Linked DNA regions of Homo sapiens: regions 1, 3, 4 and 5 are each linked to region 2. Evidence: fine-mapped expression QTL. A gene starts in region 2. Each other region holds a variant in brackets. All regions are shown on one strand. Distances are between the middles of the regions. Region 1 overlaps LTF (lactotransferrin). Region 2 holds the start of CCR5AS (CCR5 antisense RNA). Region 3 overlaps CCR3 (C-C motif chemokine receptor 3). Region 4 has its middle 49 kb from the start of CCR1. Region 5 has its middle 21 kb from the start of CCR2.

Evidence for each region. PIP is the estimated chance that this variant, and not a neighbour inherited with it, causes the effect.
Region 1: its variant is the best candidate, but not a certain one, in a credible set for the expression of CCR5AS in blood mononuclear cells (TOPMed, PIP 0.51).
Region 3: its variant is the best candidate, but not a certain one, in a credible set for the expression of CCR5AS in monocytes after Pam3CSK4 (Quach 2016, PIP 0.69).
Region 4: its variant is the best candidate, but not a certain one, in a credible set for the expression of CCR5AS in whole blood (INTERVAL, PIP 0.84).
Region 5: its variant is the best candidate, but not a certain one, in a credible set for the expression of CCR5AS in whole blood (INTERVAL, PIP 0.53).

Annotation. Positions count from the first base shown.
Region 1 is chr3:46,457,156-46,462,083 of GRCh38, forward strand. It overlaps LTF (lactotransferrin), which reads right to left. Exons shown (of 17, transcript NM_002343.6): 2 at 2,501-2,664. Among named protein-coding and RNA genes, the nearest start is that of LTF, 5.3 kb to the right of the region's middle. The variant T/C (reference allele first, on the strand shown) is at 2,568.
Region 2 is chr3:46,404,747-46,409,674 of GRCh38, forward strand. It overlaps CCR5AS (CCR5 antisense RNA), which reads right to left and starts at 2,320. Exons shown (of 4, transcript NR_125406.2): 1 at 2,151-2,320. CCRL2 (C-C motif chemokine receptor like 2) reads left to right here and starts at 2,513. Exons shown (of 2, transcript NM_003965.5): 1 at 2,513-2,756; 2 at 3,322-4,777. The coding sequence starts at 3,334. The coding sequence ends at 4,368.
Region 3 is chr3:46,246,729-46,251,656 of GRCh38, forward strand. The region is part of intron 1 of CCR3 (C-C motif chemokine receptor 3); the gene reads left to right. Among named protein-coding and RNA genes, the nearest start is that of CCR3, 6.7 kb to the left of the region's middle. The variant C/T (reference allele first, on the strand shown) is at 2,548.
Region 4 is chr3:46,157,147-46,162,074 of GRCh38, forward strand. No RefSeq gene overlaps it. Among named protein-coding and RNA genes, the nearest start is that of CCR1, 49 kb to the right of the region's middle. The variant A/C (reference allele first, on the strand shown) is at 2,185.
Region 5 is chr3:46,330,446-46,335,373 of GRCh38, forward strand. No RefSeq gene overlaps it. Among named protein-coding and RNA genes, the nearest start is that of CCR2, 21 kb to the right of the region's middle. The variant T/G (reference allele first, on the strand shown) is at 2,337.

The sequences.
Region 1 (4,928 bases), 52 kb after region 2:
CATCAACCGGTACCAGTCCGTGGCCAGGTGGTGGGGACCCCTGGGATACATCATATTTTGTGGACTGCTTATTCCTCTAAAACTGGATACATTTTCTAACTTCTGCAGAGCCTTTACTGATTTTGTAGACAGCATAATGTTTTCTCATAATGTGGGTGTTCTATCGTGTATTGAATAATTTCCCCCAATGTTTAGCATTTAAGTTTATTTCTAACTGTTTCCTGTGAAGACTGTATTTTCATGAATATCTTTGTCCTCAGTGTTTTTCCTTGTGACCACTTGTGTCCTTGGGTAGGCAGCTGAGGGTGGAATCCCCCAGATGAGGAGCACGTTTCCCCCTGTGACCCGGGCTGCCGTTGCCATTCTGCTTCCAGAAGACTTATAATACCAATTCAGAATGGCGCTGACCGTGAGGACCAGCTTCACTCTTGAATCACCAGCAGGGCAGGCTATCATTCTATTAGCTGTTATTACTATAGAAAATGTGAGTACTAACAAATCGCTCAGGTCTGATTAGTAAGGGGAACATCTCACAAGTATTTTTTATTAATTATGAATTCCCTCTTACTGGTAACTCTGTTCATATCATTTTTCTTCTATGATTCTACATTTTTTCCAATTTGGGTTATTCTTTTATTTATTTATTTTTTCGAGCGGAGTCACCCAGGCTGGAGTGCAGTGGTACCATCTCAGCTCACTGCAACCTCCACCTCCCGGGTTAAAGCGATTCTCTTGCCTCAGCCTCCTGAGTAGCTGGGACTACAGGCGTGTGCCACCATGCCTGGCTAATTTTTTTTTTTTTGTATGTTTAGTAGAGATGGGGTTTCACCATCTTAGCCAGGATGGTCTTGATCTCCTGACCTCGTGATCCACCTGCCTTGACCTCCCAAAGTGCTGGGATTACAGATGTGAGCCACCACGCCCGGCCTTGAGTTATTCTTTTATAGAGTGTAAATAGTAATCATGTGTCAGAGCTGGCGCATATTCATTCATTCCAGTCCTTTCTAATTTTTTTATTTAAATATTTTCTATGGGCTATGAATTACATTTTCTGTATTTTAGAATATCTGTTTGTTTCGTGATTTAGATCATCATTTAAGAGATTTCTATTTCCTCTACAGTTCTGCTAGTTAACCTGCCCCCTAGTTTTTCAATAATACAAGTTTTATTTTTAACCATTTAATCTATCTCAACTTTATTTGAATGAATGGTATGTAGTACTGATTTCAAACAGGGATCTTATTTTCCGAGATCAGACGAGATCAGACGCGTTCAGCGTGGTATGGCCTTGGACAGGATCTTATTTTAAAAGGCAGATTTTGTGGCTTCTTTCACATATATTCAGATTGAGTAGGTTAGAATAGAGCCTAGGAATCTGCATTTTAAACAAGCAAGAGATGCTGGTGCTGGTTTTTTGTTTTTGTTTTTTGTTTTTTGAGATGGAGTCTCGCTCTTGTCGCCCAGGCTGGAGTGCAATAGCATGATCTTGGCTCACTGCAACCTCCCCCTCCCGGGTTCAAGTGATTCTCCTGCCTCAGCCTTGTAAGTAGCTGGGAATACAGGCATGTGCCACCACACCCAGCTAATTTTTGTATTTTTAGTAGAGGCAGGGTTTCACCATGTTGGCCATCCTGGTTTTGAACTACTGACCTCAGGTGATCCTCCCACCTCGGCCTCCAAAGTGCTGAAATTACGGGCGTGAGCCACCGCGCCCAGCCACTGGTACTGTTTGTATGCAGGTAATAGTTGTAAAATAATAGCCTAAAACATTGATTAAACTAGATTTTTCCCTAAGTGCTATTCTAATAACTCCATTGTATTTATAAGATAATCCTATGAAGTTGCCTCGGGAACTTTTATGCAAATTATTCACTCTGCTGGAGTTGAGTACACATGATTATGGCACATGGCAGGTACACAGAATATATTTGTTGAATGAATGAGTAAAAATCATTTCAGTAGATCTTACATCTCAAAAAATAAAAGGAATCAGAAATCATATACAAGTCATGATACCCTTTTCTCTCTCTCTGAAAGTGTCTTGGACAAAAGTCTTTCTAACACCCAGCACCCTGGCAGGCCCTGCCCCAGCCATGTGATGTGGCAACGGTGACCAGGACAAGCTTCTTTCTCACAGGGTTTAGAGGTCATGACTCTTTTGGAGGATTTCCCTCTCTGAGTAACTTTGCTTTTTGCTGATCCTATGTATTCATCAAATACAACTGATTACATTTCATTTTGGAACAGTTGTTATTAATGAATAACAGTTGTTATTATAGTTTATGTGGAGGCTCCAGGTTCCTCACACATGGTCTCTTGACTTAAGCTCCTTCCTTTCTGCTCTGAAAATAGCACAGTTCCCTGTGAGAGAGGACGGCTCCCCACTTCGTTGCCCAACAGGTGAAGCAGAGGAAGTAAGGAGAGCTCGTGTTCTATCTTTTTCCATTTCTCTCTCCCTTCCATTCAGCTTGGTCCCAACCAACACCCGGCATTGACTCACCGCAATGGCCTGGATACACTGGATGGGGGAGTCTCTCTTTATGCAGCTGACAGGAGGGCCACGCACT[T/C]TTCTCATATTCCTTTGCCATTGGAAGCATTTTGTGGCCTCGGGTTGGGATACGGCGCACCACTGAACACTCCTCCTACGGCCAGCCAGACACAGTCCTGGGAGAGAGGGGCCAAGGAGTAAGGATTCAACCACTGACTGAGGGCGTGACCACCGCACCCTCTGATGGAGTTTTCCAGACTCCTCCCTCTCTCTCGGCTGCCCTCCTTCCCTCTCCATTTCATGGCTATGTCCAGCCATTCTCCACAAGTGGAGGCATCTTGCTGGACTAATAGGATCTCTGCATTGGCTAGAGGTCTGTGGTTCTCAATAAATTAAAGGAGAAAGTCCCTCTAGATTATTTTCATTCCTATGACTTTGACATGTTTCCTACCACTTAAAAAATGATGGTGATCCCCCAGATCAGTTATGGAATTCTTCTACCAGCTTTGCCCACTTTGAACCTGGAAGGTAGGCAGGAAAGGAGTCATTGCTCCTGTTTTACTGATGTGGAAATTGGCTCCTAAGGAGGCTGAGTGACTCGCCACTCAGCAGTGCAGAGCCCAGCTGAGAATCCACGTCTCTCTAGATTGTTTTGTGCATAAATCTCTTCCCAGGGAATGCCAAGAGAACAGGGGAAAATATACCTGAGTCGGTTGGTAGCTGAGGTAAATGGTAAGTCAGTGTCAATGGGGACAAATCAGTTGGTTGGTGTGCCTGAGCTACCACCATTCACTCTGCACAGAAAGACTGGTGCTCCTGTTGAGCCTGCTTTTTTTGCTCAAATACTGGTTCTTCTTTTGAGCCTGCTTTTGTTGCTCAAATCCATGTAATTAGGGAGGAAGATGCATTGAATTTACTCACCTGGTTGCCTGATAAAAGGCATCCACAAAAAACCTGCAATGAACATCATACTAAAATGGTGAAAGACTGACTGCTTTCCACCTAAGATCAGGAATGATGAGAGAGTGTCCACACTCAACTCTTCTATTCAACAGTACTAGAGATTCTAGTCACAGCAATAAGGCAAGAAAAGAAATGAGACACCCATATTGGAAAGAAAGAAGTAAAACTGACTTTACTTTCAGATAACATGATCTTCTATGTAGAAAATACTGAAGAATCTACAAAGTACTATTAGAATTAATAAACAAGTACAGCCAGGCCACAGGATACAAGATCAATATACAAAAATTGATCATATTTTTGCATACAGCACAGAACAATCTAAAAATGAAATTAAGAACATAATGCTAGATAGTATAACATCAAAAAGGATTTAGTACATGACGGGTAAATGATAAGAACAGACATTTTACCAAAGAAGATATATGAATGGACAATAAGCACATGAAAAGTGCTCAATATCATTAGTCAAAAATGCAAATTGAAAATGCAACGAAATATCATTTCACAGCCACTGAACAGGTTATAATAGCTAAAACAGACAATGACACATATCGATGAGGATGTGGAGAAGTGGAAACCCTCATACATTGCTGAGAATGTAAAATGACCAGCCACTTTGTAAAACAGGTTGGCAGCTTCTCAAAATGTGAAGCACAGAGTTCCAATAGGACCCAACAATTGCACTTCTAGGCATATAGCCAGAAGAAATATTATAAGAACCTATCATACATAAATGCTTGTGCATGAATATTCATAGCAGTGTTATTTAGAATAGTAGAAAACTGGAAACAACCTAAATGTCCAATAACTGGTGAATGTACATCCATTCAATGGAATATTACTCAGCAGTGAAAAGAACTACTGGCATGCCCCACAACATGAACGAGCCTCAGTTATGCTCAGTGAAGGAAGCCAGACACAAGAGACCACATGCTGTATGATTCCATTTGAATGAAATGTCCAGAAAAGGCAAATTTATGGAGACAAGAAAATAGATTAGTGGTTGTCTGATGCTGGGGTAGAAATGAGGATTAACTATAAACAGGCATGAGGGACCTTTACTGGGGGGGATAAAAGTGTTCTAAAACAGATTTATGGTGATAGTTGCACACTCGGTAAGGTTACTGAAACTCATTGAATTGTACGCAAATAGGTGATTTTTTATGATATGGAAAATGTACCTCAGTAAAGCTGTTACCAAAAACTAAAACAAAAAACAAACAAACAAAAAAACAAAATAAACACACAGTTGTAAAAGCCCTCTGCCCTTTGGATGTGCTATGGGGTAGAATGTTCAGCCTCTGCTGTCTCCTGTTTCTGAGCCATCCCCTTATGGCGAGAGCCACCCATGGCCCTTGGGTGGGCAAGAGGCCTGTAGCTCCCTGGCTGAGTCTGCAGAGGTTTGGGGACACCTAGCTGCCATACTCCCCCTTCATCCACCCTCATCCCGGGGAAATCCCAGGGAATATAATCT
Region 2 (4,928 bases):
CTAATCTACAATTTACTTGAGCTCTGTGAAGGTCAGGATTTTTGCCTATTTTGTCCATTGGTGCATCCCCAGCACCTGGAACAGAGCTAGGCACAGGCTAGGCACTCTAGAAATACTTGCTGAATAATTGAATTAAGTAAATGAGTGATCTACACGTAGTGGGGAATGAGAGTATACAGTGATAGTTCCTTCGACTAAAACTGGGGTCAAATTATAGTGATAAAGAGGAACTCAGACCTTCAGAGGTAAGCTTTGTGGACCACTTGCCAAGGCTGCAGAATGTGATGTCGTTTCACAAACAAGGAGGCCCTATTATGGCTTCAGATATGAGAATAATAAAGAGAACTTTCCTTTCGCCTCAACTGCAGCCTTCTAAACTCTTCCTTCCTTCCTATGTAGAAGTTTCAAGGACCTCATGGCCTGAGTGTGGATAGGCAGAATGCTGGGAATCAGGCAAAAATAAAATAATACTGAAAGTGAAGGTCATGCTAATATTAGTAAGCCAGGGTGATCCTGAATTTACAAAACATTTTTCTTTGGGAAATTTCACACCTCACATGATTCTGTGTTTTTACTTGGGAAATTTCACATCTCACATGACTCTGTGACATGCGGTACATGAGGTGCCTGACTGCTGTTTTTGTCCTCTACTAATGAGGAAGAGTGTGCGTACTCCCAGCGTTTTGCAAGTTTCAAAGTCTGACTTGACTTTCCTTCCTTTTCCTGGAACTGATCCATGAGTATCGAGAGTAAAGCTGCCCGCACCTACTCATTCAAGATCCTGAGTGTCCTGCCCAGCTGCAGGAGGTGGAGAGACCCAGGAGGAGGGGCCACTGCTGATCCCAGGCTGTAGGGGGTGGGAAGAGTGTCCCAGGGCACCATGACCCCCACTCACTCACTCACAGGAGACCCACACAAGAGAGGAGAGGGCACTTACAGCTTAGGTTCCCACCAGCACCAACTCCTCTGCCATCAAACATCATTGTGTTTCTCTTTCTGCCTTGTCTGTCGGCACACGTGGAGTTAAATTTAATGCTCAATCACATATTTGTCTGGGCTCTTTCTGTGTTTATTTTTCTCTTAATAGTTCTCTCTCCTCCCTTCCTCTCCCCGCCCCTCCTCCTCCTTCTTCTTTTTTTTTTCCAGAGACAGTGTCTCGCTCTGCCACCCAGGCCAGAGTGCAGAGTGGCATGATCATGGCTCACCGCAGCCTCCAACTCCTGGGCTCACGTGAACATCCCACCTTGGCCTCTGGAATGTCTGGGATTACAGGCACTTGCCACTGCATCTGGCTAATTTTTATATTGTTTATAGATCCGGGATCTCACTATGTTGCCCAGGCTGGCCTCAAACTCCTGGGCTCAAGCGACCCTCCCACCTCATACTTCTGAGTAGCTGGGGCTGTAGGAATGCGCCTCAGTGCCAGGCTAGTTTCTTAATTTTCTATTTCTATTTTGACAGGTACAAATTTTGTATTCAATCCTACCTCAGACACATCTTTGGTGGGAAAAGGATGTCATTTAATCAATATATAAATTCTAAGCAAATAGGTCTGATCCCCAAATTAGGTTAGTCACAGCTGCTGAGTCGTTGACCCAAGAGAAGCTCATCTAGATTTTTTCATTATTTTCAAGTTCCTCTTCTCGGTTCGTCCTTCTTCCAGACCGTGCCCTCCCCGTCCCACTCTCTTCCCACAGCCTCCCCTCCCCACAGCCTCCTCCCACCATTCCAAATCTGGGCTGTTCTCTCAATTTCCTTCTCTCTGGACTCAAACCTACCCTAGCCCCCAGCCTCAGTTTGGGGTTAAACTTGTCCTCCTCACATTCTCTCCCACCCAACTTGATGTCGCCTCTGTGTCATCACCACGGGATTTTCCTCCTCTGGGTTCTCCTTTTCCGAGTGGGGTCAGCTCCCCCATGAGTCACAGCACCAATCACTTCTGGCTGCTTGCAAACCCCTTTGCTTTCCTCAGTGTTGACACCCAGGGCAGCCCTATGCTCACTGCCGCTGAGACCCCACCTCTGCCCCTGGCCTTTTCCCAGCTGACATCACCCTGTGGCTTCCATTTTCCTAAAATTCTCTTTTGAGGCCTCAGTCTTAACCAAAGCACACAGTGCCCCTCAAAAATGACAATAAAAACCCAAACACACCGTGACTGTCATGGCAGGTTCCTGGTCCCCGTATTGAATCAGCGGGTGGGTTTCTGCGAACACTGGTGAGAGGCCGCATTAGAGGGTCAGGACCCTCAGGTCTGGACTCGTGGTCACCACATACCTTCCTCCCTGCTGACAGTAGCTGGTACCTGTTACCTACTCAGAGTGTCACATGCCACAAGCCAGAGCGTCTTGGCAGTTCTCAGCACCTTGACATCACTTCCTTGCTACCACTCAGAGCGGCAGTGACACAGTTCCCTTATCTCAGAAGGCCAGAAGACGGCTGTCAAAGGTCACAGGGAAATCAAAGGCGGGGTACAGGGCCAGAGGGAGGAGGAAACAACTTCCCGGTTGCTTTCAGACGCTTCAGAGATCCTCTGGAGGCCTGGGGGAGCTTTTGAGTACTTTATTTCAGTTGGTCCCTGAGCTCGGTGAGTGGGGCGGGTAGAGCCACCAGGGGAATCAACAGTGGTTTCTCGTGCCCCTCAGGGTCAGGAGCAGTCTGATCAAAAGGAGGGCATCCACTGTCCGGGGCCATTCCCACAGCTCCCGGATGCTGGGTCTGGAGGCTGCGCCCTTCCCCTGCAGGAGCTCAGCCCAGTGGTAAGTCATCTGTGTGTCATCTATGTATTTAACCCCTTATGGCCATGTTGATGCTGAGCATGGTTTCACTTTTGCAAACATTTATTTATACCCTTCGAGAGAAAAACGTCTCAGCTGTCACAGGAAGCTGCTTCGGGGGGTGAGCAAACTTTTTAAAATGCAGAAATTATGATCTACACCCGTTTCTTAAAAGTAAGCCATCGTACTTGGTTCTCTTTAATTATATATTTTCTTACATATTGTGTTCATGTAGGCAAGTCCTGTTTCTGCTAAAAGAAGGTAAGTTCTACCAAGGCGGTGTCATGCCAGCTTTATTTCCCGTGGCACCTGGCACACTGCTAAGCACTTACATGCTTAACAACTAGATTGGGAATGGTGCTGCTCTGGGGAAGTGGGCACACGTTAAAGAAATGTTTATTTCAGTCTTCTGAAATAGGGAATTACTCTGGCTAAAATGTAGCTCCAGAAAGGGAAAGTGGGGCTGTATGAATCCAGGTCCAGTTTGTTGTTTCCTCCAGGATAAGGCAGCTGTCGGAGGGGAAAATCATCTCCCATTTCTCCACAGGGCAGTCTGAAGATGGCCAATTACACGCTGGCACCAGAGGATGAATATGATGTCCTCATAGAAGGTGAACTGGAGAGCGATGAGGCAGAGCAATGTGACAAGTATGACGCCCAGGCACTCTCAGCCCAGCTGGTGCCATCACTCTGCTCTGCTGTGTTTGTGATCGGTGTCCTGGACAATCTCCTGGTTGTGCTTATCCTGGTAAAATATAAAGGACTCAAACGCGTGGAAAATATCTATCTTCTAAACTTGGCAGTTTCTAACTTGTGTTTCTTGCTTACCCTGCCCTTCTGGGCTCATGCTGGGGGCGATCCCATGTGTAAAATTCTCATTGGACTGTACTTCGTGGGCCTGTACAGTGAGACATTTTTCAATTGCCTTCTGACTGTGCAAAGGTACCTAGTGTTTTTGCACAAGGGAAACTTTTTCTCAGCCAGGAGGAGGGTGCCCTGTGGCATCATTACAAGTGTCCTGGCATGGGTAACAGCCATTCTGGCCACTTTGCCTGAATTCGTGGTTTATAAACCTCAGATGGAAGACCAGAAATACAAGTGTGCATTTAGCAGAACTCCCTTCCTGCCAGCTGATGAGACATTCTGGAAGCATTTTCTGACTTTAAAAATGAACATTTCGGTTCTTGTCCTCCCCCTATTTATTTTTACATTTCTCTATGTGCAAATGAGAAAAACACTAAGGTTCAGGGAGCAGAGGTATAGCCTTTTCAAGCTTGTTTTTGCCATAATGGTAGTCTTCCTTCTGATGTGGGCGCCCTACAATATTGCATTTTTCCTGTCCACTTTCAAAGAACACTTCTCCCTGAGTGACTGCAAGAGCAGCTACAATCTGGACAAAAGTGTTCACATCACTAAACTCATCGCCACCACCCACTGCTGCATCAACCCTCTCCTGTATGCGTTTCTTGATGGGACATTTAGCAAATACCTCTGCCGCTGTTTCCATCTGCGTAGTAACACCCCACTTCAACCCAGGGGGCAGTCTGCACAAGGCACATCGAGGGAAGAACCTGACCATTCCACCGAAGTGTAAACTAGCATCCACCAAATGCAAGAAGAATAAACATGGATTTTCATCTTTCTGCATTATTTCATGTAAATTTTCTACACATTTGTATACAAAATCGGATACAGGAAGAAAAGGGAGAGGTGAGCTAACATTTGCTAAGCACTGAATTTGTCTCAGGCACCGTGCAAGGCTCTTTACAAACGTGAGCTCCTTCGCCTCCTACCACTTGTCCATAGTGTGGATAGGACTAGTCTCATTTCTCTGAGAAGAAAACTAAGGCGCGGAAATTTGTCTAAGATCACATAACTAGGAAGTGGCAGAACTGATTCTCCAGCCCTGGTAGCATTTGCTCAGAGCCTACGCTTGGTCCAGAACATCAAACTCCAAACCCTGGGGACAAACGACATGAAATAAATGTATTTTAAAACATCTATTTAATGTATTTTAAAATAATTTGTAAGTTGATTTTAAAACCAATTTAACTACATTCCAAATTATAGACAGCCCATTTATATGGGAGTAACTTTTCAGGCTCATTGCCTCGCCGGTGATGAGAAGAACTAGCTAGCTGGAAGCTGTGGGAA
Region 3 (4,928 bases), 160 kb before region 2:
CTGCCTTCTTATATTAATAAGAAAAATAAAACAAAATAGTGTTGAAGTGTTGGGGTGGCGAAAATTTTTGGAGGGTGGTATGGAGAGAGAATGGGCGATGTTTCCCAGGGCTGCTTCAAGCGGGATTAGGGGCGGCGTGGGAACCTAGAGTGGGAGAGATTAAGCTGAAGGGAGGTCTTGTGGTAAGGGGTGATATTGTGGGGATGTTAGAAGAAACATTTGTCGTATAGAATGATTGGTGATGGCCTGGATATGGTTTTGTATGAATTGAAAAACTAAATGGAATAAGAGAAGGAGAAAAACAGGTATAAAAGGTCTAAGAATCGGGAGGACCTAGGACATCTGATTAGAGAGTGCCTAAGGAGATTCAGCATAGTCCTGCCAGCAAAGATTATTTATTTACTTCAAGAGTTAAGAGCGGCGGTTTGGGGATAGCACGAGGAGATATCAGCTGTGATGGCTTGAAAAAACAGTGTAAACTGGCAGTGTAAACAAGAGCAGGGCATGTATGAGTAGTTGAGAACAGAGAACAGGAGTATGACTAGATAGAAAATAGTAGGGATGACAAGTTTTTTTGGGGCACAGTCTAAGGTGGTCCGGTGTCTGGAATGAGACTGGGGGCCTAATGAAAAGGAGCATCTATACAGGAACTTAAATGGGCTGTACCTTATAGCATTCCGAGGACAGGTCTGACTTCTGAGAAGGGAAAGTGGTGAAAGTATTGTCCAGTTCTTTTTAAGTTGGTGGCTGAGCTTGGTGAGGTGTGTTTTTAAAAGACCTTTAGTCCGTTCTACTTTTCTTGAAGACAGAGGACTATAAGGGATATAAAGGTTTCACTGAATACTAAGAGCCTGAAAAACTGCTTGGCTGATTTGACTAATAAAGGCTGGTCTGTTATCAGACTGTATAGAGGTGGGAAGGCTAAACTGAGGAATTATGTCTGACAGAAGGGAAGAAATGACTGCGGTGCCCTTCTCAGACCCTGTAGGAAAGGCCTCTACCTATCTAGTGAAAGTGTCTACTTAGACTAAGAGGTATTTTAGTTTTTGTGACTCAGGGCATGTTGAGTAAAGCTAATTTGCCAGTCCTGGGCAGGGGCAAATCCTCGAGCTTGATGTGTAGGGAAGGGAGGGGGCCTGAATAATCCTTGAGGAGTAGTAGAATAGCACATAGAATAGCAGATGGAACACTGAGAAGTGATTTCCTTGAGGATAGATTTCTACAATGGAAAGGAAATGAGAGGTTCTAAGAGGCAGGCTAGTGGCTTGTACTATAGCATAGCCTGCCTTTGCTGGTGTGTGGTGATTAGGCCTGGTGGAACTGCCATCAATAAATCAAGCATGATCAGGGTGAGGAACAGGAAAGAAGGAGATATGGGGAAATGGGGTGAATGTCAGGTGGATCAGAGAGATACAGTCATGAGGGTCAGGTGTGGTTTCTGGAATAATGTGGGAGGCTGGACTGAAGTCCGGGCCAGGAATGATGGTAATTGTGGGAGACTTAACAAAGAGTGAGTACAGCTGAAGGAGCCAAGGAGCAGAAAGTATATGCATCAGGTATGAGGAAGAAAATAGATTTTGGAAGTTATGAGAAATGTAGAGAGTGAGTTGAGCATAGTTTGTGATTTTTAGGGCCTCTAAAAGTATTAAAGCAGTGGCAGCTGCTGCATGCAGACATGAGGGCTAGGCTAAAACAGTAAGATCAAGTTGTTTGGACAGAAAGGCTACAGGGTGCAGTCCTGGCTCTTGTGTAAGAATTCTGACTGCACTAACCATGCCTAGGAAGGAAAGGAGTTGTTGTTTTGTAAGGGATTGAGGTTTGGGAGATTAATCGGACAGGATCAGCAGGGAGAGCACGTGTGTTTTTATGAGAATTATGCCGAGATAGGTAACAGATGACGATGAAATTTGGGCTTGACTGAAGTAATGGGGGCTGTCTGTGAAACCTTGTGGCAGTACAGCCCAGGTAATTTGCTGAGCCTAATGGGTGTCAGGGTCAGTCTAAGTGAAAGCAAAGAGAGGCTGGGATGAAGGGTGCAAAGGAATAGTAAAGAAAGCATGTTTGAGATCCAGAACAGAATAATGGGTAGTAGAGGGAGGTATTGAGGATAGGAGGTTATATGGGTTTGGCCCCACGGGGTGGATAGGCAAAACAATTTGGTTGATAAGGTGCAGATTCTGAACTAACTTGTAAGGCTTGTCTGGTTTTAGGACAGGTAAAATGGGGGAATGGTAAGGAGAGTTTATAGGCTTTAAAAGGCCATGCCTTAGCAGGCGAGTGATAACAGGCTTTAATCCTTTTAAAGCGTGCTGTGGGATGGGATCTTGGCATTGAGCAGGGTAAGGGTGATTAGGTTTTAACGAGATGGTAAGGGGAGCATGATTGGTCGCCAAGGAGGGAGTAGAGGTATCTTATACTTGTGGGTTAAGGTGGGGGAATACAAGAAGAGGACGCAAAGGAGGCTTTGGATTGGGAAGAAGGGCAGCAATGAGATGCGGCTATAGTCCAGGAATAGTCAGGGAAGCAGATAATTTGGTTAAAATATCT[C/T]GGCCTAATAAGGGAACTGGGCAGGTGGGGATAACTAAAAAAGAGTGCATAAAAGAGTATTGTCTAAGTTGGCACCAGAGTTGGGGAGTTTTAAGAGGTTTAGAAGCCTGGGCATCAATACCCACAACAGTTATGGAGGCAAGGGAAACAGGCTCTTGAAAAGAAGGTAATGTGGAGTGGGTAGCCTCTGTATTGATTAAGAAGGGGATGGACTTACCCTCCACTGTGAGAGTTACCTAAAGCTCGGCATCTGTGATGGTCTATGGGGCTTCCGAGGCGATCAGGCTGTGTCAGTCTTCAGCCGCTAAGCCAAGAAGGAGTCAGTCAGAGAGCCTTGGGCCAGAGTTCCAGGGGCTCTGGGAGTGGCTGCCAGGTGAGTTGAACAGTCTGATTTCCAGTGGGGTCCCACACAGATGGGGGAATCCTGGGCTGCAGGCATTCCTTGGCCTGGTGGTCAGATTTCTGGCACTTGTAGCAAGCTCCTCGGGGAGGAGGTTCTGGAGGAACGCCTGGCCACTGCGGTTCAGGTGTTTGGAAGTTCTTGTGTGCTGGGGATGTGGCTGGGGTTTGTCTCACAGTGGAGGCAGGGAATTGCAACTTTTTTTTTTTATCATTGTACACCTTGAAGGTGAGGTTAATTAAGTCCTGTTGTGGGGTGTGAGGGCCAGATTCTAATTTTTGGAGTTTTATTTAATGTCGGGAGCAGATTGGGTAATAAAATGTATATTGAGAATAAGATGGCCTTTTGACCTTTTAGGGTCTAGGGCTGTAAAGCGTCTCAGGGTTGCTGCCGAATGAGCCATGAACTGGGCTGGGTTTTTATATTTGATGAAAAAGAGCCTAAACGCTTCTGATTTGGGATAAAGAAAAAGGAGCATTAACCTTGACTATGCCTTTGGCTCCAGGCACCTTTTTAAGAGTAAATTGCTGGGCAGGTGGGGAAGGGCTAGTGATGGAACGAAACTGTAAGCCGGACCAGGTGTGAGGAGGTGAGGCGATAAAAAGATTACAGGGTGGAGGAGTGGAGGCTGAGGAAGAATTGGGACCTAGCTTGGCCTGGCAAGGAGGGGAGAGGTCAGATGGGTCTGTAGAAAAGGAAGATTAGAAAGACTCAGCGATGCTTGGGGTTGGGACTGAGGGGACAGGCGGGAGGGAAACAAGGAAGATTTGGGACAAGTTGCACTGGGCACAGAGACTAGGAAGGGACTGATGTGTAAAAGAATGCCTGGACATCAGGCACCTCAGACCATTTGCCTATTTTAAGACAAGAATTATTTAGATCTTGTAGGATGGAGAAATCGAAAGTGCCATTTTCTGGCCATTTAGAGCCATTGTCAAGTTTGTATTGGAGCCAAGCAGTGTTGCAGAAGAAAATAAGGCGTTTAGGTTTTAGGACAGGTGTAAGTTGAGGTTTTAAGTTCTTGAGGACACAGGCTAAAGGAGAAGAAGGAGGAATGGAGGGTGGAATTTTGCCTATAGTGAAGGAGGCAAACCCAGAGAAAAGAGAGAGTAGAGACATGGAGGGAAGGGGTTCAGGGGTTCTTACCCTCCAGAAAAGCGGGAAGGGGGGTTGGGGCATGGAAATAAGGGATTGGGGCACAGAGATAAGAGGTCTGGGTGCGGAAATAAGGGATTGGGGCACAGAGATAAGAGGTCAGGGTGAGGAAATAAGGGATTGGGGTGCAGAGATAAGAGGTTGGGGTGCAGAAATAAGGGATTGGGGGTTCTTGCCCCCTAGAAAAGTGGGACTTGCCACTAAGAGTGAAGGAGAAGGGGTTGAGGGGTACTTGCCCCTCCCCCAGAAAAGCAGAGAAGGGGTAGAGACATGGAGAGAAGGGGTTGAGGTACTTGCCCCTTTCCCAGAAAAGTGGGACTTGCTGCTAAGGGTGAAGGACCAAGGCAGGCGTCCCTGCGTGGTCTGACACCCTTGAAACGTGGGTGAATAATCAGAGAGGCGTCCCTGCAATGATTAAACACCAAGGGAAGGCTGCCTTCCCAGTCTGTGACCGGCGCCGGAGTTTTGGGTCCATGGATAAAAGGTGTCTCCTTTGTCTCTACCAGAAAATGAAAGGAATTGAAATTAAGAGAAGGGAGAGATTGAAGTGTGGCGCCAAGATTGAAAGGAGAAAGAGGTTGAGGGATAGTGAGGGAGGTTGGAGAAGAGAGTAAAAAGAGGCCGCTTACTGGATTTGAAGTTGGTGAGATGTTTCTTGGGCTGGTCGGTCTGAGGACCTGAGGTCGTAGGTGGATCTTTCTCACGGAGCAAAGAACAGGAGGACAGGGGATTGATCTCCCAAGGGAGGTCCCACAATCCGAGTCACGGCACCAAATTTCATGTGCATCCTTGTGAAGAGACCACCAAACAGGCTTTGTGTGAGCAA
Region 4 (4,928 bases), 250 kb before region 2:
GTACAGATTATTTCATCACCAAGATATGAAGCCTAATAATATTCATTCGTTATTTTTCCTGATCCTCTCCCTCCTTCCTCCATCCTTCCTACCCTCTGCCATCTGGTAGGCTCCCGTGTGTGTTGTTCACCTCTATGTATTCATGTGTTCTCATCATTTGGCTCCCACTTGTAAGTTAGAATGTGTGGTATTTGGTTTTCTCTTCCTGAATTAGTTTGCTAAGGATAAGGGCCTCTAGCTCCATCCATTCCTTGCAAAGGACATGATCTCATTCCCTTTTATAACTGCATAGTATTCCATGGTATACATGTACTAGATTTTCTTTATCCAGTCTATCATTAATGGGCATTTAGGTTGATTTCATGTCTTTGCTAGTGTGACTAGTGCTACAATGAACATATGCATGCATGTGTCTTTATAATAGGGAAAGATTTATATTCCTCTGGGTATATACCCACTAATGGGATTGCTGGGTTGAATGGTATTTCTGCCTCTAGGTCTTTGAGAAATCACCACACTGTCTTCCACAATGGCTGAGCTAATTTACACTCCCACCAACAGTATAAAAGCATTCCTTTTTCTCCACAGGCTCAGCAGCATCTGTTGTTTTTTGACTTTTTAATAATAGCCATTCTGACTGGTATGAGATGGTATCTCATTATGGTTTTGATTTGCATTTCTCTAATAATCAGTGATGTTGAACTTTTTTTCATATGTTTGTTGGCTGCATGTATGTCTTCTTTTGAGAAGTGTCTGTTCATGTCCTTTGCCCATTTTTAATGGGGTTGTTCGTTCTTTTCTTGTAAATTTGTTTAAGTTCCTTATAGATGCTGTATATTGGACCTTTGTCAGATGCATAGATGGCAAAAGTTTTCTCCCATTCTGTAGATTGTCTGTTTACTCTATTGATAGTTTCTTTTGCTATGCAGAAGCTCTTTAGTTTAATTAGATCCCATTTGTAAATTTTTGCTTTTGCTGTAATTGCTTTTGGCATTTTTGTCATGAAATCCTTCCCTGTGCCTATATCCTGAATGGTATTGCGTAGGTTTTCTTCTAGGGCTTTTATAGTTTTGGGTTTTATGTCAAAGACATTTAAGTTTAAAAGCATTTAGGTCTTTAATCTATCTTGAGTTGATTTTTGTATATGGTGTAAAGAAGGGTCCAGCCTCAATTTTCTGTATATGGCTAGCCAGTTCTCCCACCATTTATTAAATAAGGAATCCTTTCCCCATTGCTTGTTTTTGTTAGGTTTGTCAAAGATCGGATGGTTGTAGGTGTGTGGTATTATTTCTGGGCTCTCTATTCTGTTCCATTGATCTATGTATCTGTTCTTGTACCAGTACTATGCTGTTTTGGTTACTGTAGCCCTTTAGTATAGTTTGAAGCTGGGTAGCATGGTGTCTCCAGCTTTGTTCCTTTTGCTTAGGATTGCCTTGCCTATTTGGGCTCTTTTTGGGTTCCATGTGAATTTTAAGATAGTTTTTTCGAATTCTGTGAAGAAAGTCAATGGTAGTTTAATGGGAATAGCATTGAATCTATAAATTGCTTTGGGCAGTATGGCCATTTTTATAATATTGATTCTTCCTATCTATGAGCATGAAATGTTTTTCCATTTGTGTCATCCCTGATTGCTTTGAGCAGTGGTTTGTAGTTTTCCTTGCAGAGATCCTTCACTTCCCCTGTTAGCTATATTCTTAGGTATTTTATTCTTTTTGTGGCAATTGTGAATGGAAGTTCATTCATGATTTGGCTCTGTGTTTTGCCTGTTGTTGATGTATAGGGATGCTAGCAATTTTTGCACATTGATTTTTATATCCTGAGACATTGCTGAAGTTGCTTATCGGCTTAAGGAGGTTTTGGGATGAGACAATGGGGTTTCTTAGCTACAGGATCATGTCATCTGCAAACAAAGATAATTTGACTTCCTTTCTTCCTATCTGAATACTCTTTATTTCCTTCTGTTGCCTGATTGCTCTGGCCAGAACTTCTCATACTATATTCAATAGGAGTGATGAGAGGGGGCATCTTTTTCTTGTGCTGCTTTTCAAGAGGAATGCTTCTAGCTTTTGCCCATTTGGTATGATATTGGCTGTAGGTCTGTCATATATGGTATGTTCTTATCATTTTGAGGTATATTCTTTTTTTTGGAGATGGAGTCTCGCTCTGTCACCCACGCTGGAGTGC[A/C]GTGGCACAATCTCCGCTCACTGCAACCTTCATCTCCTGGGTTCAAGCAATTCTCCTGCCTCAGCCTCCTGAGTAGCTGGGACTACAGGCATATGCCACAACTGCTGGCTAATTTTTTGTATTTTTAGTAGAGATGGGGTTTCACCATGTTGCCCAGGCTGGTCTTAAACTCCTGAGCTCAGGCAATCTGCCTGCCTTGGCCTCCCAAAGTGCTAGGATTACAAGCATGAGCTACTGTGCCTGGCCGTCTTTAGTTCTGTTTATGTGATGAATCACATTTATTGATTTGTGTATGTTGAACCAACCTTGCATCTCAGGGACGGAGCCTACTTGATCATGGTGGTTAAGTTTTTTGATGTACTGCTAGATTTGGCTTGCCAGTGTTTTGTTGAGGTATTGTCAAGTGTATTGGCCTGAAGTTTTCTTTTTTTGTTGTATCTCTGCTAGGTTTTGGTGTCAGGACGATGCTGGCCTTATAGAATAAGTTAAGGAGGAGTCCTTCCTTTTCGATTTTTTGGAATAATTTCAGTAGGAATGGTACCAGCTCTTCTTTCTACATCTGGTATAATTCAGCTGTGAATACTTCTGGTCCTGGGCCTTTTTTGGTTGGTAGACTATTACTGCTTCAATTTCAGAACTCGTTATTGGTCTGTTCAGGGATTCAATTTCTTCCTGGTTTGGTCTTGGGAGGGTGTACGTGTTCAGGAATTTATTCATTTATTCTAAGTTTTGTAGTTTGTGGGCATATAGGTGTTCTTAGTAGTCTCTTATGGTTATTTGTATTTCTGTGGGGTCAGTTGTAATATCTCCTTTATCATTTCTGATTGTGCTTATTTGAATCTTTTATCTTCTTTATTAGCCTAGGTAGTGGTCTATTTTATTAATTTTTTCAAAAAGCCAGCTACTTTATTTGTTGATCTTTTGAAGGTTTTTTTGTGTCTCTATCTCCTTCAGTTCAGCTCTGATCTTGGTTATTTCTTGTCTTCTGCTACATTTGGGGTTTGTTTTCTCTTGGTTCTCTAGTTCCTTTAGTTGTGATGTTAGGTTATTAACTTGAGATCTTTCTAGATTTTTGATGTGGGTATTTAGTGTTATAAATTTCCCTCTTAACAGTGCCTTAGCTGTGTCCCAGAGATTCTAGTATATTGTATCTTTGTTCTCATTAGTTTCAAATAACTTCTTGATTTCTGCTTTAATTTTACTTTTTACCCAAGAGTCATTCAGGAGCAGGTTGTTCAATTTCCATGTACTTGCATGGTTTTGAGTAGATTTCTTAGTCTTGAGTTCTAATTTGATTGCACTGTGGTACAGGAGATTCATTTGTTATTATTTCAGTTCTTTTGCATTTGCTGAGGAGTGTTTTACTTCCTGATTATTTGATCAATTTTAGAGTAAGTGCCATGTGGAGATGAGACAATAATATATTCTGTTGTTTTTTGGTGGAGGGTTCTGTAGATATTTATCACGTCCATTTGATCCATAGCTGAGTTCAGGTACTGAATATCTTTTGTTAATTTTCTGTCTCAATGATCTGTCTAATATTGTCAGTGGGGTGTTAAAGTGTCCCACAGTTATTGTGTGGGAATCTAAGTCTCTTTCAAGGTCTCTAAGAACTTGCTTTATGAATCTGAGTGCTCCTGTGTTGGGTACATATCTATTTAGGACAGTTAGCTGTTTTTGTTGAATTGAACCCTTTACCATTATGTAATACCCTTCTTTGTCTTTTTAAATCTTTGTTAGTTTAAAGTCAATTTGTCAAAAACTAGACTTCAGCCCTGGCTTTTTGTGTTTTCCATTTGCTTGGTAAATTTTTCTCCATCCCTTTATTCTGAGCCTATGTATGTCTTTGCATGTGAGATGGGTCTCTTAAAGACAGCATACCAATTCCTTATCCAGTTCGCCACTCTGTGTCTTTTAATTGGGGCATTTAGCCCATTTACATTTAAGGTTAAAGATAATATTGTTAAATGTGAATTTGATCCTGTCATCATAATGCTAGCTGGTTATTTTGCAGACTGGTTTATGTGGTTGCTTCCTAGTGTCACCTGTCTGTGTATTTCAGTGTGTTTTTGCAGTGGCTGGTAACAATTTTTCCTTTCCATGTTTAGTGCTTCCTTCAGGAGCTCTTTTAAGGCAGGTCTGGTGGTAATGAATTCTCTCAGCATTTGCTTGTCTGAAAAGAATCTTATTTCTCTTTTGCTTATGAAGCTTAGTTTGGCCACATATGAAATTCTGGGTTGGAATTTCTTTTCTTTAAGAATGTTGAATATTGGCCTCCAATCTCTTCTGGCTTACAGGGTTTCCACTGAGAGGTTTGCTGTTAGTCTGATGGGCTTCCCTTTGTAGGTGATCTGGCATTTCTCTCTGGCTGCCCTTAACATTTTTTTTTTTTTTTTTTTTTTTTTTCATTTTGACCTTGGAGAATTTTATGATTGTGTCTTGGGGATAATCTTCTTGTGGAGATGGAGTTCTCTGCGTTTCCTGAATTTGAATGTTGGCCTGTCTATCTAGGTTGGGGAAATTCCCCTGGATGATATCCTGAAATATGTTTCCCAAATTAGTTTCATTCTCTCTGTCTCTTTCAGGTATCTCAATCAACCATAGATTCGGTCTCTTTTTACATAATCCCATATTTATTGGAGATTTTGTTCATTCCTTTTCACTCTTTTTTTCTCTATTCTTGCCTGGCTGTCTTATTTCAGAAAGTCAGTCTTCAGGCTCTGAGATTCTTTCCTCTGCTTGGC
Region 5 (4,928 bases), 74 kb before region 2:
GTTGGGGAGTTTTAAGAGGTTTAGCAGCCTGACCATCAATAACCACAACAGTTATGGAGGCAAGGGAAACAGGCCCTTGAAAGGAAAGTAATATGGAGTGGGTAGCCTCCATATTGATTAAGAAAGGGACAGACTTACCCTCCACTGTAAGAGTTACCCAAAGTGTCTGTGATGATCCAGGAGGCTTCTGAGGTGATCAGGCAGTGTCAGTCTTCAGCTGCTAAGCTGAGAAGATCTGGGAAGGAGTCAGTCAGAGAGCCCTGGGCCAGAGTTCCAGGGGCTCTGGGAGTGGCTGACGGGCAAGTTGGACAGTCCGATTTCCAATGCGGTCCCACACAGATGGGATACAGTTTAGGAGGAATCCTGGGCTGTAGGCATTCCTTGGCCCAGTGGCCAGATTTCTAGCACTTGAAGCAAGATCCTGGAGGAATGCCTGACCACAGTGGTTTAGGTGTTTTGAAGTTCTTGTGTGCTGGAGATGTGGCTGAGGTTTTTCTCACAGCAGAGGCAAGTAATTGCAACTCAGAAATACATTGCCACTTGGCTGTCTCTTCTCTATTATTGTACACCTTGAAGGTGAGGTTAATTAAGTCCTGTTGTGGGGTTTGAGGGCCATAATCTAATTTTTGAAGCTTTTTTAATGTTGGGAGTGGATTGGGTAATAAAATGCATATTGAGAGTAAGACAGCCTTCTGGCCCCTCTGAACCTAGGGCAGTAAAATGTCTAAGAGTTGTTGCCAAAGGGACCATGGACTGGGCTGCGTTTTCATATTTGATGAAAAAAAAAGAGCCTAAATGCTAACTAATTTGGGAGAGGTCAGATAAAGTAAAAGGAACATTAATCTTGACTATGCCTTCAGCTCTTGCCACCTCTCTAAGAGGAAATTGTTGGGCAAGTGGAGGAGTGCTAGTCGTGGAATGAAACCATAAGCTGGACTGGGTGTGAGGAGGGGAGGTGATAGAAGGATTACAGCGTAGGGGAGTAGAGGCTGAGGAAGAATTGGGACCTGGCTCAGCCTGGTGAGGAGTGGCCTGGTGAGGAGCAGCCTGGGGAGGAGGAGAGAGGTTAGATGGGTTCGTAGAAAAGAAGGATTCAAAGGACTCGGAGCTTGGTGAGGAGACTGAAGGAACAGACAGGAGAGAAAGAAGAAAGATTTGGGACAAGTCGCATTGGGAGCAGAGACTAGGAAGGGAGTGATGTGTAAAGAATGCCTGGACATCAGGCACCTCAGACCATTTGCCCATTTTATGACAAAAATTATCTAAGTCTTGTAGGGTGGAGAAATCAAAAGTGCCATTTTCTGGCCATTTGGAACAATTATCGAGTTTGTATTGGGGCCAAATGGTGTTGCAGAAGAAAATAAGATGCTTAGGTTTTAGGTCAGGTGAGAGTTGAAGAGGTTTTAGGTTTTTTAGAACACAGGCTAAGGCAGAAGAAGGAGGAATGGAGGGTGGAAGGCTGCCCATAATAAAAAGGTAAGTTTAGAGAAAAGAGAGGATAGAGACACAGAGAGAGGGGGTGGTGGTACTCATCAGCCAGGGGAGGTGGTACTTGCCACCAAGGTGATGGATCAAGGCAGTCATCCCCACGGTGATCAGACACCTCTGAAATGTGGGTGAATAATCAGGCAGGTGTCCCTGCAGTGATTAGACACCAAGGGGAGACTGTCTTCCCGAGTCCGTGACCGGTGCTGGAGTTTTGAGTTCACAGATAAAACACATCTCCTCTGTCTCTACCAGAAAGGGAAAGGAACTGAAATTAAGGAAGGGAGAGATTGAAGGGTGGAGAGATAGCAAGAGAGTTGGAAAAGAGAATAAAAAGAGGCCACTTACTCAATTTAAAATTGGTGAGATGTTCCTTGGGCTGATCTGAGGACCCAAGGTTGTAGGTGGATCTCCTCACGGAATGAGGGTGAGGACAGGGGACTGGTCTCCAGAAGGAGTTCCCGAGTCCTGGATCTTCAGCACCAAATGTCATGTGCATCCATGTGAAGAGAGTCCACCAACAGGCTTTGTGTTATCAATAAAGCTTTTTAATCACCTTGGTGCAGGTGGGCTGAGTCTGAAAAAGGAGTCAGCAAAGAGAGATAGGGGTGGGTCAGTTTTATAAGATTTGGGTAGGTAGTGGAAAGTTACAGTTAGAGGTGGTTATCTCTTGAGGGCAGAGGTGGGGGTCACAAGGTGCTGGGTGGGGAAATCCTGAGACTTATCATCCAGGGAAGGAGTGTCACAAGGTCGATTGATCAGTTGGGGTGGGGCAGGAACAAATCGCATGGTGGAATGTCATCAGTTAAGGCAGGAACTCACTATTTCACTTCTTTTGTGGTTCTTCAGTT[T/G]CTTCAGGCCATCTGGATGTACACGTGAAGGTTACGGGGATATATGATGGCTTAGCTTGGGCTCAGAGGCCTGACACTAACCTCCTGCAGAAGCCACAAAAGGTTATTACACATAAACCATGGTTTCCACAGGCAGGCACTCTTGATGTGGAAAATTGGGATAGAGCAGGATTAAAACAAGCTCATCAAAAAGGTCTTAAAGTTGATTCTTCAGTTTTCTCCACTTGGAGTTTAGTTCATACTGTACTTCTGCCATTATCTCCTTATTATTCTGCGGAACAGCAGGCTGAATCTAAAAATTGGAAAGAATTTGTTGTCCTACTCACAGCTCCAATTGAATATAAAAAACAGGAGAGGGAGGATAAAAATTGGCCTATACCGCCTCCTCCAGATGCAGAAACATCTGTACCATCTCCTTCAGTGGCAGAAATAGAGATCCCAGTACAAAGAATTTTATGCTCTGCTGTCATAGCTGGAGAGCCCTTAGGACCTTGTGCTTTTCCTATTTCTGTAAGGCCTGATCCAAATAATCCACAGCAGTTTATTCATGAACACTCTCCACTAGAATTTAAGTTGTTGAAGGAATTAAAAACTAGTGTGGTCAATAATGGAGTACAAAGCCAATGGTTCCTGGAGGAAGGAATGCTAGACATAGAACTTTGGGAGCAAGTGGGGAGAAATCTTAAACAACACCAGGCACAAAGGCATCAGGTCCCAGTAAAATCTTTTATGTTAGGGGCTTTGAGTAGAGCAGCCCTGGTTGTTACACACAAAAGAGCCTAAAAAGGGAAAGGAGGAGGAAATGTCACCTGCCTTATCACCTCCCCTTCCCTCAGTGCCAATATCACTGGGCCAAAATAACAAAGAGGAAATGGAGGTCTTACCTAAGCTTCCTCCTCCAATAGATAGGAAGAAGGACAGAGGATACGCTACAGCTATCAGTCCCTGTCTTAAGCAGGCAGCATTAGAAGGAGAGCTCTTAGCCGGGTGCAGTGGCTCATGCCTATAATCCCAGCACTTTGGGAGGCCGAGGCAGGCAGATCATGAGGTCAGGAGATCCAGACCATCCTAGCTAACATGGTGAAACCCCGTCTCCACTAAAAATACAAAAAATTAGCCAGGCATGTTGGTGGGCACCTGTAGCCCCAGCTACTTGGGAGGCTGAGGCAGGAGAATGGCATGAACCCAGGAGGTGGAGCTTGGAGCTTTCAGTGACCTGAGATTGCACCACTGCACTACAGCCTGGGCAACAGAGCAAGACTCCATCTAAAAAAAGAAGAAGAAGGAGAGCTCTTAACCTGCTCAGTAATGCAAAATCGGCAAGGCAATCAGGTGTATGTTTATAAAAAGATAAGAAAAAGGCATTAGAAGCCAAAACCACGTGGCCAAGCAGGCAGTGGGCAGGAGAAAATGCTCAGAGGCAGAAAAGCTCACAGCGACAAAGCCAACAAGGTCTGCCCAGGACGGCAGCATCCCTCTGGCAAAGGAGCAAGGGAGCAGCACAGACACAGGCAAAGCCTAAACAAGTACAATGTGGCCACCTCCCAGGACCTGCACCACTGCCCTCTGGCTCTGTGGGCAGCCCATTGCAAAATTTCATGTGTTACATCTCAGGCTATGATTCTCTGCTAAGATGTAAGTAAAATGTAAGAATTTGAAAAGCATCTTTTCTAATAATGGCCACTATTGTCATCTCTCTCCTATCCCTGATGTAGCTTTCCAAATTCAATTTAAGTAAAACAGTAACCTTTGAAGGGAAAGAGATTACAGAGGGCCCATGAATTAGTTGAAGAGTAATTAAAAGCTAGGCATGTAAAACCACACATTACGCTTTAAAGAAGAAATTTAAACCTAATTAAATGATATTTGTTAAATTAGAAGGTAAAAATGTTGTGCCCTGTTGGGAACAGGCCCCCAAATCTGGCCATAAACTGGCCCCAAAACAGGCCATAAACAAAATCTCTGCAGCACCATGACATGTTTGTGATGGCCATGATGCCCACCTTGAAGGTTGTTGGTTTACTGGAATGAGGGCAAGGAACACCTGGCCCACCCAGGGCAGAAAATTCCTTAAAGGCATTCCCAAACCACTAATGATAGCATGAGCAATCTGTGCCTTAAGGACATGTTCCTGCTGCAGACAGCTAGCCAGAGCCCATCCCTTTGTTTTGGCCCATCCCTTTGTTTCCCATAAGGAATGCTTTCAGTTAATCTATGATCTATAGAAACGATGCTTATCACTGGCTTGCTGTCAATAAATATGGGAGTAAAACTCTGTTCAGGGCTTTCAGCTCAGAAAGCCATAAGCCCCCTGATTTCCCACTTCCCACCCTTTATTTCTGTGTGTGTGTCTTGAATTCCTCTAGCGCCTCTGGGTTATGGTCTCCACAACCACGCTGGTCTTGGCAGTGCCCTTCTCAGAAAGTGAAAAAGAGTTGTATGTAAGTGTAGTGAAAACATAAGCATGAATCACTGTCTTAACCCACTGATTAGATAGTCTTTGATTTGTACTTGCTAAAAGAGTCCTAAATTGAGTTCCTCAGCTAGTGAGTCACTGTTTTCAAGACTGTTTGCCAGATTGAAGTCCATAAA